3 separate regions of the Homo sapiens genome follow, and regions 1 and 2 are each linked to region 3. The links come from fine-mapping of genetic effects on gene expression. A gene starts in region 3. Each other region holds a variant in brackets. All regions are shown on one strand. Distances are from middle to middle.

Evidence for each region. PIP is the estimated chance that this variant, and not a neighbour inherited with it, causes the effect.
Region 1: its variant is the best candidate, but not a certain one, in a credible set for the expression of TUBGCP2 in whole blood (TOPMed, PIP 0.83).
Region 2: its variant is the best candidate, but not a certain one, in a credible set for the expression of TUBGCP2 in fibroblasts (GTEx, PIP 0.55).

What each region holds. Positions count from the first base shown.
Region 1 is chr10:133,162,079-133,167,296 of GRCh38, forward strand. The region is part of intron 1 of KNDC1 (kinase non-catalytic C-lobe domain containing 1); the gene reads left to right. Among named protein-coding and RNA genes, the nearest start is that of KNDC1, 4.5 kb to the left of the region's middle. RefSeq lists an enhancer at 3,469-3,980. The variant C/G (reference allele first, on the strand shown) is at 2,638.
Region 2 is chr10:133,363,397-133,368,614 of GRCh38, forward strand. It overlaps ECHS1 (enoyl-CoA hydratase, short chain 1), which reads right to left. Exons shown (of 8, transcript NM_004092.4): 5 at 3,493-3,597; 6 at 2,580-2,699; 7 at 1,262-1,329. Among named protein-coding and RNA genes, the nearest start is that of MIR3944, 5.7 kb to the right of the region's middle. The variant G/A (reference allele first, on the strand shown) is at 2,213.
Region 3 is chr10:133,306,505-133,311,722 of GRCh38, forward strand. TUBGCP2 (tubulin gamma complex component 2) reads right to left here and starts at 2,368. Exons shown (of 18, transcript NM_006659.4): 1 at 2,319-2,368. It overlaps ZNF511-PRAP1 (ZNF511-PRAP1 readthrough), which reads left to right and starts at 2,410. Exons shown (of 9, transcript NM_001396060.1): 1 at 2,410-2,592; 2 at 2,886-2,959; 3 at 3,272-3,473; 4 at 3,660-3,784; 5 at 5,212-5,218. The coding sequence starts at 2,440. ZNF511 (zinc finger protein 511) reads left to right here and starts at 2,410. Exons shown (of 6, transcript NM_145806.4): 1 at 2,410-2,592; 2 at 2,886-2,959; 3 at 3,272-3,473; 4 at 3,660-3,784; 5 at 5,212-5,218. The coding sequence starts at 2,440. RefSeq lists enhancers at 1,545-1,774, 2,498-3,193, 2,601-2,895 and a silencer at 2,005-2,854.

The DNA.
Region 1 (5,218 bases), 140 kb before region 3:
CAAGGCCTCCAGGTGAACTGTCATCCCACCGAGTTTGCAGCGTGCAGTGGGAACGTTCAGGTGGGCCCTTCGCAGACACTCCTGGAAAGCATCGGGTGGTCCCTGGCCCAACCCTGTGCCCAGTACTGAGCCCAACACACCCCATGTCTCAGAATTCCCCTGGCGTTCAGACTCTGCTTCCCACACGTGTTTGGCTTGGAAGGTTCTGAAATCTCCATCGGGGCACCTGACTTGCATGGGAAAACCGTCCTGGGTGAGGTGAGGGCACGGTGAGGTTGCATCATCATCCCAGAATGCCGGAAGGCCAAGGGTGCAGGGCAGCTGCCGGGAAAGCACGGTGGCGCCAGGCCCAGGACATATGCAGGCTTCATAAGATGTAGGAACTCACTCATTCTACAGCTAATTATAATGGCTGGCTCCATGATGGGGTCAAGAAATAGACCCCTATGGACACCCACCGGAGCCCCTGGAATGTCCCTCCCTTGACATGGTCCCAAAGAAAATCCAAATGGCTGCTGAACATGTGAAAAGATGTTTGCTCATTGCAATCAGGAAAATGCAAAATACACCCCCACGAATGCCTTCCCAAGACCGCCAGGCTGGCAAGAACTGAAGAGCGGACAGCGGCTTGTGCTGGCAAGGACGGCGCAGCAGCTCTCCCTCGCGCCAGTGGGAGGACAAATGGAGCAGCCTCTTTGGAAAACAGCCCAGCATTCGCTGGTGAAGTAGAAGGCACCAGTGCCCTGTGTCCCAGCAACTTCACTATGGTGTGGGCCCCAGAGACACGTGGCCGTGCGTGTGTGAGAACACTCTCAGCTGGAACCTACCAGAGCATCAGCAAGTGGGCCAGCAGGTCCTGGAGGAAGTGACCAGGTTGGATCCCAGTACAGGCAAAGAACCACCAGTACACGATAGACAGGGAGATGTTCTGTGGGGGTGATGCAAGGAGGGCTTCCTGGAGGTGTCCTGCCCGGGATTCCCATGAGATTTCAGTCACTGTGGATGGGGGTATGGGATCTGAGGCAGAACAGTGCAATCCAGGCAGAACAGCGGCTGCAGAAGAGGCACACAGTCCAGGCGGCTGGAGTCGATGGATGGGCAATGCTGGCTGCCCCATGGGAATTCAGATGAGACGAAGAGGGTGCACCGGTTTGGGTGCCAGAGCAGGACGTGTCCCGGGTCCCTGAGAGGCAGGCAGCACTATCATCCCTCCCAGAGTTCAGCAACTGCCTCCCAGAACCTCCTGTGTGCCGGTGTCAGGCTGGGCTCAGAATCTGAGGCTGGACAGGATGCAGTTGCTCCCTGGAGGGGCACACAGCTGGGGGCTCCCAGTAAAGAAGAGGACGTCCCCGCTGCAGGGTCCATATGACATCTGTGCCAGGATGAGCTCAGAGCAGAAGGCACCTCGGGAGCAGAGGTGGTTTTGTGGTGGGGGCCTGGCAGTGTGAAGAGAGCTGTCAGGAGGCCTGGGGATTGGCAGCCAGTGCTCCCAGCTGTGATTGGAGTTTTGTATTAGTCCTGTTAGAATCCCACGGCTGAAAAAAATCAGTTGGTCATAAGACAGTGTATTTCAAATGCGCCACACGATCTAGGCGTCCCTGTGTAACCCTGGCTCGAAGTCTGCCTGGCAGTGTGGCGGGGGGTGTGGGAGCTTTCTGAATGCACAGGGCCCCTAATGGGGACCTGCCATGAGATAAGGGTCCTCGGTGGGAAGCGTGCCCTGCCCTCTGAGACCCAGGGACTGGCTGATGTGCTGCTGCCCTGGAGAGCAGCCCAGTCCCGGGGGTTCATGTCCACCTGCCTTCCCAAATCCCTCCTCCCACCTGGGATGGGGGTGGAGTTCGTGGCCACCTGCCTTCCCAAATCCCTCCTCCCACCTGGGATGGGGGTGGAGTTCGTGGCCACCTGCCTTCCCAAATCCCTCCTCCCACGTGGGATGGGGGTGGAGTTCATGTCCACCTGCCTTCCCAAATCCCTCCTCCCACCTGGGATGGGGGTGGAGTTCATGTCCACCTGCCTTCCCGAATCCCTCCTCCCACCTGGGTTGGGGGTGGAGTTCGTGGCCACACAATTGCAAAGTGGGGACCAGTCTTTCCTGTCCTGCAAGGAACAGGTCTTAGGTGGTCCCTGCTCTCAGACCTACCCCATGGCTCACCCAGGCACGCCCTGCTAGGGATGGTAAGGGGCAGGGTGGGTGGTCGGTGGGCTGGACTAGGTCATGAAGAACCCTCTGGGCCTGCTCAAGAGGCTGGGTCTGTGCCGGCAGACGGAGTCACTGAAAGCTGGCCAGCCACAACAAGGTCAGACTGTATTGGCAGGGGCAGGAGAGGCTGAAGTGTGGAAAGTCACGAGGCCCCAGCCTGCCGTGGGGCCCTCGTGGGTGCTGGGCAGACAGGTGCGCAGGAGGCGGCGCTGGGCAGACAGACAGGCGTCGGCCAGCTGAGGCCGGCGTTGCTATTCACAGCACGTCACCTCCTTCCCAAGTGTCTGCCACAGCCCATTAAACTCCTGTCGAGGCCACCTCGGCAGCCCCGCAGCCCGGCTGGGCGTATTTTACTTGAGCACGAAGCTTCCTGGCCCAGCTGTGGACTTGAACCTACCTGGTAGCAAGGCTGAGAGCCCCGGGGTCTCCAAGGG[C/G]CCCTTCTGGAGGTGACTACAGGACGCCCACAGCTCAGGACTACAGGACGCCCAGATAGCTCCCGACCTTGAGGGTGGTCGTGGGGTTGTCTGCTGGGATGTGGCGGGGGGAGCCCAAGGACGTGGGATCCCCAGGCTGCTGAGTGCTGCCTGTGTCTCTCCCAGTCCTCTCGTCCTGTCCTGGCCTCTTAGGCCTGTCTGACCCCCCCTTGCTCACCCAGCCAGTGTGGATTCGGGCAAGGAGGGCTAATTCCTCTCACCTGTGCCAGAGCAGGGTGGAGGCTGCAGGTCCCAGAGGGCAGGTGACCCGGGGCCCAGAGTTCAGGCCTGGGAGCCCTCAGCACATGACAAGACCCCCTGGGTGGCCGGGCTCAGGACCCTGTGTGAGCGGAAGCCCACCCTCTGGAAAGCCCCAGAGAGGCTGAGACCATCCTATCCCTGAGGGGAGGCTTCAGCCACAGACCCCATGGAATTCACCGCTAAAGTCATCCAGAGAATCTCCGACGGAATTCAGACACGCCCACCTCTCATGGGTGCTGGGGCTCCAGGTGTCCGGCTTCCCTGAGGGGAGGAGGGGGCTGCCCATCACCAGGCATCTCCCCTCCAGGTCTGAGCAGGAGGGCGTGCTGTGTGCGAGTGGTGGCCCTGCTGGCACGGCTGACCTGGGCTCCCTTCCCGGGTCCACGTGTCTCGACACCATTCTGTGGGCTGGCGGCAGGCGCCTGACCTGTGAGTGACAGCCAGAGGCACCCCAGGGCCCCGCAGGGGGACGGGGACCGGCTGAGACGCGCCTCATGCTGACTCCCTTCCTCCTAAGCAGCACAACCTACGGGGTCCTCAGACTGACTTACCGCTTGGTGCACGTCTGTGCCCGTGTTTGCAGGCACGTGTGCGTGGGCATGTTGCGCTGTGTGCATGTGTGTGCCAGTGCACGGGAGTGTGTACATATGTGTGCGCCTGCGTGTGCAGGTGCATGGGTGTGTGCATGTGTTTGTGTGTACGCAGTGCCCAGGTACCTCTTTAACCAGCCTCACAGGCGTCGCTGGGAGCTTCGGGCTCTCTGGAGTCCTGAGGAGTCCTGGGCGGTGCTAAGAGGGCGGCAGGCTTGAGCCCAAATCAAACACCTTTGATCGATCACGGGCCACAGGAATGGGGCAGGGAGATTCCCGCCATAGAAAGAGCTGGAAGGGCCTGGGAAATGATGTCATCAAGCCCCTCCCTGGACCGCAAGAAGGAGATGGACGGGATGTGCCAGGACCCCACGAACAGACGCAGAGCCAGCCCCATGGCCAGGCCCCACCGGGCGCCCATGCCCTGATCCCGTCGTTTGTTGGCCTCCTGCTTTGGTTTGAGCCCTTCATCCCTTTCCTGTGCCTGGGGGGCCTCTTGCAGTGCCAGCCGCTGGGGCAGGGTAGGGGGACCGGAGGCAGGAGGTGCCTCTCAGGACATCAGCCCAGTGGCTCCAGTACAGCCAGAGCCGCCCTGTGCACTGGGGGAGGGGGGGCCAGCGATGGGGGAGAAGGGGCCTCTGCCTCCTCCTCACGGGCCCCACCCATAGTGTCCAGGCTGCAGCCCCCGGCCACCCCCTCCTACCTGCACATGGGGTGCCCCGGCCGGGGAGCAGCACACCCAAGAGGGCCTTCAGCTCCATACTCGGGTGCGTGCGAGTGTGGATTGTGCAGCCTTGTGTGTTCCTGTGAGGGTGTGTGCACCAAGTGTGGGAATGGGTGTGTGCGGGTGTGCATGTCTGTGCGTGCATATGGTCAGTGTTAGGCATGTGTGCGGTGGCATGTAGTATGTGTGTGAGTGTGAGGTGTGTGTGTGTATGAGGATGTCTGTTCTCATTGCATGAGTGTGTGTGTGTGAAGCGGATGGAACTGTGAGTGTGCACACACCTTGCACCAGCGTCCGAGTGTTACTGTGTGAGCGTGCCCTGTGTTGGCGTGTGTCCATGTGGGATGCATGTATGGGGATGCGTGTGTCTGTGTGAGGGTGAGCACGTGTGCTAGGTGGGTATGTTTGTGCATGTGCATGGGGGGGGTGTGGGTGTTGGTGGCAACCATCGTGATCACAGCTGAGCCCTCGCGGAGTCCAGGAGCCCACTCGGATTTGGAGGTGAGCCCACATGGGGGCGGCCGAGCCACATGGAGGGAACCGCCGTGACTGTGTCCTCCGTGTGAATTGCCTGGAACAAATGTTGGCAGCGCGTGTGGTTGTAAGTCATGTGAGTGTCAGGATCACGCCCCGTTAGCTCTGCACGAGTCCACAGTTGGGGATGTCCACTCCGTCGCCTCGCTCATCTGTTGGCAGCCTCCACAGGCCAGTCCAGCCGTGAGCCTGCGGGGTCGGGGTGCTCCACGGAGCAGGTGACCCAGCAGCTCTGGCCGAGCCTCCGGGAGGAAGGCCCCGTGCCCAGGCTCCAGGAGCCGACACCTGCTCTGGGCAGCACGCCGACGGTGCCACCAAATGTTCCGTGGCTCTGACGTCCAGGGAACAGCAGGACGACTCTTGAAACAAAATGAGACGTGGTCTAAAGCCCTTTCCCTGACCCACGCGTTGAAACGCTGCCACGAGTCGTCCG
Region 2 (5,218 bases), 57 kb after region 3:
CTTCCTCAGGTGCCCAAACCACTTTTAATTTTTATTTTATAGAACAATTAAAACACCGAAGTATGACTTTCTCCCAGTGAAAGACATGAATTAAAATGGTAATCTGGCCGGGTGCAGTGGCTCACGCCTATAATCCCAGCACTGTGGGAGGCCGAGGCAGGCAGATCACTTGAGGTCAGGAGTTCAAGACCAGCCTGGCCAACATGGTGAAACTCTGTCTCTACTAAAAATACAAAAATTAGCCAGGTGTGGTGGTGGGCACCTGTAATCCCAGCTACTCGGGAGGCTGAAGCAGGAGAATCACTTGAACCCAGGAGGTGGAGGTTGCAGTGAGCTGAGATCTCACCACTGCATTCCAGCCTGGACGACCGAGCAAGACTCTGCCTCAAAGGGAAGAAAATTAAAATTATGATGGTAATTAGAGGAATTACTTTAAGTTACTGGCAGAAATCTTATAAAATATTGCTCTAAAGCTTCAGCTTATCTTATTAGAATACATTTGAGCCTATTCCAAATAATTGGAATGATCTAAAAAAACATGGGTAAAATGAGTTACATTTTTTTTTTCAGACAGAGTCTCACTCTGTCTCCCAGGCTGGAGTGCAGTGGCGTGATCTCGGCTCACTGTAATCTCCGCCTCTGGGTTCAAGCGATTCTCCTGCCTCAACTTCCAGAGTAGCTGGGATTACAGGCACCTGCCACCACGCCCGGCTAATTTTTTGGATTTTTAGTAGAGACGGGTTTCGTCATGTTGCCCAGGCTGGTTTCAAACTCCTGAGCTCAGGCAATCCACCCGCCTCAGCCTCCCAAAGTGCTGGGATTACAGGGTGAGCCACCGCGCCCGGCCTCATTTTTTAAAAAAGTCTTTTTTTTGAGACGGGGTCTTGCTTTGCTGCCCAGTTGGACTCGAACGACCCGCCTCAGCCTCCCAGGAAGCTGGGGCTACGGATGCTCGACACCCACCCGGCTGAAACTGCATTTTCAATAAAGGAGCTGCTTGAGGGTGCAATTCACAGACCTCACATAACAGGAAAAACAAGAAAAGCCCCTGTAAGGTTTCTGTACTTTTGAACTTGTACATGCTCTACTTTTTTCCTAACATCAAGACCCACTGATGGAACCAATCTGATCCCGTTAAAGGTGAGGCTGGCAGTTCTGACCAGAAAGAAACGATACTTAATGATAAAATTTAAAAGGAAATTCCCAGCAACTTGTGTGACTGGAATTTGCTTGATTCTCCGGTTGAACACTGTTTACTCACAGTGGCAAAGGTTGAATAAAAGAGTTTCTTCTCCAACTTACTTCCTTCTGTTAATGTCATTTCAAAAGCTGAAAAACAAAGTCCCAGAGTTATGAACGGAGATATTACATGCAGAACTTTTCCTGCACGGTGACAGGAAGCCCTCCTCACTGACCCATGCACAACTGTGCTTTCGACGTGGCCCAGCCCTGCACAGGCTTCCATGGTGCCGCCCTTCTCAAAGGCACTGCCCCAGCGGAGACCTGGCAGAACCAACAGCTCTGCTATGGCCCCCAAACGTCACACTCCGGTAGCCCACGGCCCCAAGAAGGGAGAGGAACTGGATGAAAGGTGAGATGGCAAACTGTGCCCTTGAGGAGAGGCTGTGAGGCGGCAACGGGGCTGCAAACAGAGAAAAATAACCAAGGATGAAAACCAGGAAGGACAGCACGAGAGCCAGAGCTGGGCGCGGCCGGCACCAAGAACGCCTTTGGCTCTGCTCATTCCAGGCCCGTTCTTTGCACGAGGCCAAGCAGAGCAGATCCAGGTGCGCAGATGGAGGCAGGCGCTGTGGCTCCAGGGCTGGTGCCAGCATCCTCTCCCAGGGGAGCACGACCTTGCCAAACACCTCGGGCGACAGCAGCCTCCGTTCTTTCAAAATGCTCTCCTCACTGTATCCTGCCTCAAGCCAACGGCAAGCCCGGGGGACGGCCACACCCTCGAGATAAATGCACTCAGAGAGGTTAGGGGACCTGCCTGGGGCCACCCACACCTGTCCGGACTCAACCAGCTAATAACCATCTCATTCCACATGCTGAGAATAAATTGTGACATTAAAACTTGAGCATTTCTGAGGAGGGGGAGGTTCAGATCCACTTCCCTGGCAGAGGGAGAACTAAAAGGGATCCAGGCCAAGAACGAACAGCGTGGTGCTGGGCTGCAAGCCTGCGTAGCCACCTGCCAGGCGCACAC[G/A]CAGCCGCCAACCCCAGGTCTCGGGAGGTGAACCGAGCCTCCCCATGGCAGAGACCATTTTACATTTGGGACCTCTGCTCCCTTCTCAGCCTTTCCCTGCCACTGCCAGCTCTGTACTGCCCTCACCTCCCAGGCCTGGCTCAGTTCTTGGGCCCTGGTACAAAGGGGAGCTGGGAACATCTCAGCGGAGTTCCTGAGTGCGTGACCAGAAACCACGACTCTACAGACAGCAGAACTGAGACACTGAGAAGCATTTCTGCCCAGGAGGGCTTAAGGCATATTCATTTGGAGCCAGAAAGCCTGCTGCTGAGGAATGCTCCTGACAGCCACGGAGACCTCTCCAGTGTCTTCCTGGCAGATCCCCTACCTGCATTCACTGATTCTTTGGCCATCGCTACTACAATTTTAGAATTGCTGGCAATTTTTTCTGCACACTGGATGGCTTCTTCCACCAGTGTCTCAACAGGACAAATCTTGCTGACAAGACCTGAAACACAAGAAAGTCAGTGAGTGATGTGCAGAAACAGCACTTGTCTATCCCTTCTCGAGTGAGTGGCCGCTGGGGAGCAGCGTGGCTGGAGCACCCCAGCCTCTGGACGCTAAGCAAGGGCGGCTTCCACACGGGAAGTGCCGCACGTGCCCCTTCCTGAGTGCTGAGTGATCTCGGCACTGCGGTCACTGTGCTCTCAGACATGTGGGCCAGGCTGGCCACAGCTCCGACGGCAGAGGCGGCCAGACACGGGGACTGTGATCACCAACAGGGCAGTGGGAGGACCGGCCACTGAGGCCTGGAGATGCCCATTGCTTACACTGCATTTTGGGGACGCAATTGCTGGGCTGTTATTCTGTACCAGATACTTACGTGTGGTTCACTTCCGTACATACAGTACTTCAAAATGTAGAAACAAAAGGCAGTCAGTCTTCTCCCAGGTCCTCAGGACCCAAAAGCTCATGCAACCACCGTGGGGGCACTTGGATGCTGCCCGGGGTTTCTGTGGGGCTCCCACGAGGGGGACACCTGGATGCCGCCCTGGGTTTCTGTGGGGCTCCCCCATGGGGGACACCTGGATGCAGCTCTGGGTTTCTGTGGGGCTCCCACGAGGGAGACAACTGGATGCAGCTCAGGGTTTCTGTGGGGCACCCATGAGGGGGACACCTGGATGCTGCCCCGGGTTTCTGTGGGGCTCCCCCGAGGGGGACACCTGGATGCCGCCCTGGGTTTCTGTGGGGCTCCCACCCCGGGTTTCCAGGTGGCTCTTGCGGGCAGCCCCAACCCATACCTGCTTGCTTGGCGTCCTGGGCTGAGATCCGGTCACCAGTGAGGACCATCTCCATCGCCAGCGACTTCCCAACAGCACGGGTGAGTCTCTGGGTGCCGCCCGCACCTGCAGGGAGGGGCTGGTCATGGCTGGCACTGTGATGAGTGAACCCAAGAAGACATCACAGCTGTGCAGCCAGCAAATTCCAAGGGGCTTAAGATAGGCCCTGAGACTAGGTCCAGGGGTCAGAGGCCAGGCAGCACAAGAGCCCGGGAACATCAGGGGCAGCAGCCCCTTTTCAAGCTCAGGCCCCACATCTGGTGCTCCCCTGTGGGCAAAGGATTACCTAGGTGCCGAGGCAAGAGACTGAAGGCACAAACTGTTTCGGTATAATAAAGAAAATAGTTAGAATAACAATAGTTATAATACAAATTAGATATAGAGATGATCATGGACATTATCAATCATTAGTATAAACATTATTAATCATTAGCTCTTAATATTACTCTTTGTTGTATTACTAATATAACCAAGAAATAACTGGCGGGTATAGGGTCAGGTGCTGAAGGCACATTGTGAGAAGAGACCTAGAAGGCAAGAGGTGAGCCTTCTGTCACACCTGCATAAGGGCCGCTTGAGGGCTCCTTGGTCAAGCAGTAACGCCAGTGTCTGGGAAGGCAACCATTACTTAGCAGACCATGAAAGGGAGTCTCCTTTCCTTGGAGGAGTCAGGGAACACTGCTCCACCAGCTTCTTGTGAGAGGCTGGATATTCTCCAGGCCTGCCCGCAGTCATCCGGAGGCCTAACCCCCTCCCTGTGGTGCTTCAACGATCACACTCCTTGTCCACTTTCATGCTCCTCCCGTACTCCTGGTTCCTCTTTGAAGTTCGTAGCAGATAGTGGAAGAAGAAAGAGTGAAAGTCTTAAAGTCTTTGATCTTTCTTGTAAGTGCATAGAAGAAAATGCTGACATATGCTGCCTTCCCTCTCTGCTTCGGCTACCTAAGAGGGAAGGGCCCCCTGTCCCATGATCACGTGACTTGCTTCACCTTGTCAATCACTTAGAGGATTCACCGTCCTCACCCTGCCCCCTCGTCCTGTATGCAATAAATATCAGTGCGCCCAGCCATTCGGGGCCACTACCGGTCTCCGCCTCTTGATGGTATTGGTCCCCCAGGCCCAGCTGTTTTCTCTTTATCTCTTTGTCTTGTGTCTTTATTTCTTACAATCTCTCGTCTCCGCACATGGGGAGAACACCTGCTAAGCCCCGTAGGGCTGGACACTACACTCCCCCAACACCCTGACATTAGATCAAGGTGATGACTCTGTAGGGCCCTCCCCAGCCTCTGTGGTCAACATATTAGAAGCTTATAGGCCTCCCTGACCCCAGGCACTGGTCCCTTATAGTAGCAGCTGTTCTAGGGATCAGACCCGAAACAAATGCACCGAGCTCACAGCTCCAGGCCTCAGAATCGGCCTCGTCCAACTCAGAGGGCAGCGAAGGGCACCCTGAGTGCAGCTGCTCCCCTCAGGGTCTCAGCTCCCTCCTGGCTGCTCGGCCTGGGCCCACCCTTCCTACCAGGAGAACCCTGGGGTTAGAGGGTGTTGCTTTTTGCCAAGAGCCCAGGCCCTTCTCACGGGCCTGGGTGGGGGGTCTGACTCCCCACCCTGAACCCAGGCCATGTGACCTCCATGGCCAGTGAGATGGCAGTGTGCAGAGCTCCCAGTGCCACCCAGGGTCACCATG
Region 3 (5,218 bases):
ATGCTGGGCACGGTGGCTCACGCCTGTAATCTCAGCACTTTGGGAAGCCAAGGTGGGCGGATCATGAGGTCAGGAGATCGAGACCATCCTGGCTAACATGGTGAAACCCCATCTCTACTAAAAATACAAAAAAATTAGCCGGGGGTGGTGGCGGGCGCTTGTAGTCGCAGATACTCCAGAGGCTGGGGCAGGAGAATGGCATGAACCCGAGAGGCGGAGCTTGCAGTGAGCCAAGATCACACCACTGCATTCCAGCCTGGGCAACAGAGCGAGACTCTGTCTCAAAAAATAATAATAAAAAAAATAAAAACTACCTTCAGGAAACTTCGTATCTCTTCTAGAAATAGAAGCACAGATGCCCGCACGTCATGAGTGTTCATCCCATGAGGAGCCTGCTGCTCTCCCTGAATGTGGGGACCGGGCCTCCAAGAGGGCAGCCCGTACTCGCACAGAGTCCCTCCCCCCAGAAGACCTTTGGAAAAGTCCTAGGGCAACTCTGGGGTGTCACGGTCATGGAAGGGTGCTCTCGCTACTTAGAGGGCAAGGGCGGGGGATGCTAATCATCAACAGAGCTGTCCCGCCAGAAATGCACAGCGTCCCACTGAAAACACAGCTCTGAGGAACATCTAGCCGTGGCTGCTTCTTGGAGGAACGTCTAGCCATGGCCGCTGACTTGGCCTTCTTGATGCTCCTGAATTCTTACTATTAATCACACAAACTGACAGGCCCAGCAACTGTGACTGGGAGGGACTGACGTCCTCCTCACAGAGGCTGTGAGCTACCGCAGGGACGCGTGCTGAGGGAAGCAATGCACGCATGTCACACTCCACCACGGACAAGCGGGGCACACACTCCTAGTGAGCACACACTCCAAGTGATTAAAACACAGAGGGACGTGAAAAAGAGTCTCTGTTGAGAGCTCAAAGCTAACTGTACAAATTGGTTTGAAAAATGTTATTTTACAACTTGTGGAAAATGTCAAGAGCCCAAAGGCTTTTACAGAGACAGAAAGTACAGTCATGCATCACTCAACATTCTGAGAAATGCCTGGCCAACATGGTGAAAACCAGTCTCTACCAAAAATACAAAAATTGGCCAAGCCTGGTGGCGCACACTTGTAATCCCAGCTACTTGGGAAGCTGAGGCACGAGAATCGCTTGAACCCAGCAGGCAGAGGTTGCAGTGAGCCCAGATCGCGCCACTGCACTCCAGCCTGAGCGACAGAGAGAGACACTATCTCCAAAAGAAAAAAAGAGAAACGTATGGTTACATGATTTCCTTCTGTGCGATCATCAGAGTCACTCGCAGACCTGGATGGTGTACGGCCTACAATGCACCTAAACCACCTAGAGGAGCCTCTTGCTCGTGGGCTACAAACCTGCCCAGCAGGTGGCGGTGCTGAACACTAGACAACTGTAACACAGAGATATTTGTGTATCTAAACATGGAAAAAGTACAGGGGCAGGCATGGTGGCTCACGCCTGCAGTTACAGCTCTTTGGAACGCTGAGGCAGCAGGACCACTTGAGCCCAAGAATTTGAGGCCGCAGCGATCTATCAGCTATGATCGCACCATTGCACTCCAGCCTGGGTGACAGACGAGAAAGCTAAAGCCTCTATCCGCCACTGGGCCCATTCTCTGCAGTAGATCTGAAGCGTCCACTGCTTCCCGCGTGTGTTGTCATTCACCATTTTAATTAGGTGACTCTTTACTCTGACGTCTGTCTCTCCTACAAGGCTGCCGCGCCCTCCTGTGATGCCTTCCCCCACACGCCCTGAGCACCTAGCACAGGTCCTGTGTTTCACGGGAGCTGCGGGGACTGGAGAGGTCGACAGGACCCCGACAAACCAGGAAAGGGCCTTTGAACTAAAGTAACGGGAAGTCACCCAAGGGCTTTAAATTAAAAACGGTTACAATAAAACTGGAGTCACTTTGGCTCCAGTTCGCGACTGGTTTAGAGGGAACAAGATCCAGGGACTGCAGCGGGAGACGACAGGCGGGGCAAGGCGGACGGGAGAGGGCGTGCGAGAGGGGGACCTGCGACCCGGCTTCCCAGGGCTGGGAGGGGACACCCGGGACGACCCGGAGGCCCGCTCCGCCCCGCCCCGGCTGAGTGTCGGGCCGCGGGGCAAGACGCTGGCCTGGCCGGTGCAGGCCCGAAGGGCTTCGGCCCCAGAGTTCGGGGACCGCTGCACAGCCAGAGGGAGCGCGCGGGAAGAGCCGCGTCCCGCCAGCCCCGTCGCCTCGTGGGCCCCCCCGGGCCTGGCAGTCCCCCAACCCCCTCATCACGCCCGCGCCCGCGTTCGGCCAGGACTCACCGCAGTCCCGGAGCCACAGCCCCCGCGCAGCCCCCGACGGCGGCGGAAGTGAGCGTGACGTCACGTCCGGCTCGGCTCGCGGACGGTGGCCGACAGGCTGCGCCCGCCCGCGCCCGGGGTGATGCAGTTGCCCCCCGCGCTGTGCGCCCGCCTCGCTGCGGGGCCCGGGGCGGCGGAGCCGCTGCCTGTAGAGCGGGATCCCGCGGCTGGGGCCGCGCCCTTTCGCTTCGTTGCGCGCCCCGTGCGCTTCCCGCGGGAGCACCAGTTCTTCGAGGTGCGTGAGCAAAAGAGGGAAAAAGTAGTTGTAGGATCCAGTGGGGCCTACGGCGGCGAGGCGGGGCCGGAGCCTGGAGTGGGAGGGGCCTACGACTGCGGGGCGGGGCCGGAGCCTGGGACAGGCGGGACCTGAGGTGGTGGGGCGGGGCCGGAACGTGGAGTGGGCGGGGCCTGAGGCTGTGGGGCGGGACCGGAGCGCGGGATGACTGGGGCCACGGGTGTGGGCGAGGCCTGACGCGGTGGGCGTGCCGCGAGTCACCTGGCCCCGCCCACGGCGCACTTTTCCTGCAGGATGGGGACGTGCAGCGCCACCTCTACCTCCAGGACGTGATCATGCAGGTGGCCGACGTGCCTGAGAAGCCCAGGTAAGCGAATGGGCAGTGCCTAGCCAGTGCTACTCCTGCGCCGCCTCCCTGACCGGTGCCTGGTCCCTGGGGCTGTGCTGCCGCTCTTCCATGTGCGGCCGCCCCACCGAGGCGCTGTGCCTGTCCAGCTTTGGCGTGGCCGACTCTTCCACCACCTAGCCTGTTTGTGAAACTTAATTCATAAAAAGAGGGTTTGGGATTGCAAAAGATGCATAGGGGCTTTATTGGACGTCTCAAAGGGAAACTGTGCAGAAAGTCCAGCTTGGTTCCTCGCACCGGAGGAAGGGCTCCTGAAGCACGTCTCCTTGGCAGGGTGCCCGCGTTTGCCTGCCAGGTGGCCGGCTGCTGCCAGGTGTTCGATGCCCTGGACGACTACGAGCACCACTACCACACGCTGCACGGAAATGTTTGCTCCTTTTGCAAGCGGGCCTTCCCTTCCGGACACCTGCTGGACGCCCACATCCTGGAGTGGCACGATTCGCTCTTCCAGATCCTGTCTGAGAGGCAGGACATGGTGGGTGACAACTGCACAGCCGCCGAGGCCACCCCCCATTGGTGATGGGCTCAGAGTGCTGCCCCCAGCTCTCGGGTGCTCGGGCAAGGCCGGGGACACCTTTCCGCCCTTGGCAGCTCTGCTACGGGGGCATGGCGGTGGGGGAGGGCCAGGGGTCAGAGGGAGGTGACACGGTCTCCATTTCAGTATCAGTGCTTGGTAGAAGGCTGCACAGAGAAGTTCAAGACCAGCAGAGACCGGAAGGATCACATGGTGAGGATGCACCTGTACCCCGCGGACTTCCGGTTTGATAAGCCAAAGAAAAGCAGAAGGTAGGGAGCCGCCAGGCTCAGCACGTGTCTGCTTTTGATTTTAGGAAAAGGTTTCCAACTAGCCGGAATGCATAGACGGTCAGACTTATTAAGCACTTGTGTGTCACCTAATGGGGTGTTCACCTGCAGGTACCTGAAGCCCTGGCAACACAGCTACAGGTGGTTGTGCCAGCGGCCACCCTGCCGAAGGGAGGCTGGAGGGGAGCCCCTGGCTGCCCAGCTCTGTGCCGGTGGAGGCAGCAGAGGGGGTGTGGGAATGAGCGGGCGCAGCGCCTCCGCACTCACACCCCTCTGGGCCATGCCTGTACCTCCTGCAGCAGTCGGCCGTGGTCATCCGCACTCACACCCCTCGGGGCCGTGTCTGTACCTCCTGCAGCCGTCGGCCGTGCTCACACATCATGCAGCCCTGGCTTTCCTTTTGTCCTGGTTGGTTGTGCGCATATGAACTTGATGACAAAGCTGTTGATTAACATGTTCCTGCCTAGAGTGCACTCTGGGAAATACTTCCAGGAACAATCTTTTTTTTTTTTTGAGACAGGGTCTTGCTCTGACACCCAGGCTGGAGTGTAGTGGTGTGATGTAGGTTCACTGCAACCTCCACTTCTCAGGCTCAAGCGATTCTCCCACTTCAGCCTCCTAAAGTGCTAGGACTACCAACACGCATCGCCGCACTCGGCAAAATTTTCTATTTTTTGTAGAGACAGGGTCTTGCTATGTTGCCCAGTCTGGTCGTGAACTCCTGGGCTCAAGCCGTCCATCTGCCTCAGCCTCCCAAAGTGCTGAGATTGTAGGTATGAGCTACCATGTCCAGCCGGAACAATTTTTAAATTGTGTTATATTTCTTCTTTTTTTAACTGATGAGGTGAACTTTCATAATCATCTACAATTTTATTGATCAGAGTTTTTCAGACTCTACATTTTCTCAAGTAGTAATTTGCTCTTTAAAATAAAAGAACTGGGAGAACCCACTGCAATGTGGGAGGCTTTACAAAGACTTACGTGTAAAGTAATTGTCTCCTTTCCGAGGGATCATTTTAAGGAGAAAAACCGTGCAATGCTGGATTAAGACATTCGTATTATGGAAGAGACTAGTTTATAGTCTCTGGTTAACTTTAGCAAATTTCTCACACTCATAAAAAGACCCGTGGCACCGTTGGCACCATAAAAATACTATTTTCAAAAAAAAGTATGATTGTTACAGTTAAGTTTATAAGATGCAGACTCTATTATATAAACAATGGCCTTGCTGTAATCATTCTCCTTTTCCCAGTATCTTAAACCACACTATAAAATCAGACTATGCCAAAATAGTAAGAAAATATGCTACTTACAGGGAAATCCAGTTTCTTTCTTGCATGTTCATTTCTGGGGAACACAGGGGCTGTGGGAGCCGTGCAGGGCAGTTACTCACTGCTCTCTCCCCGCAGCCCAGCC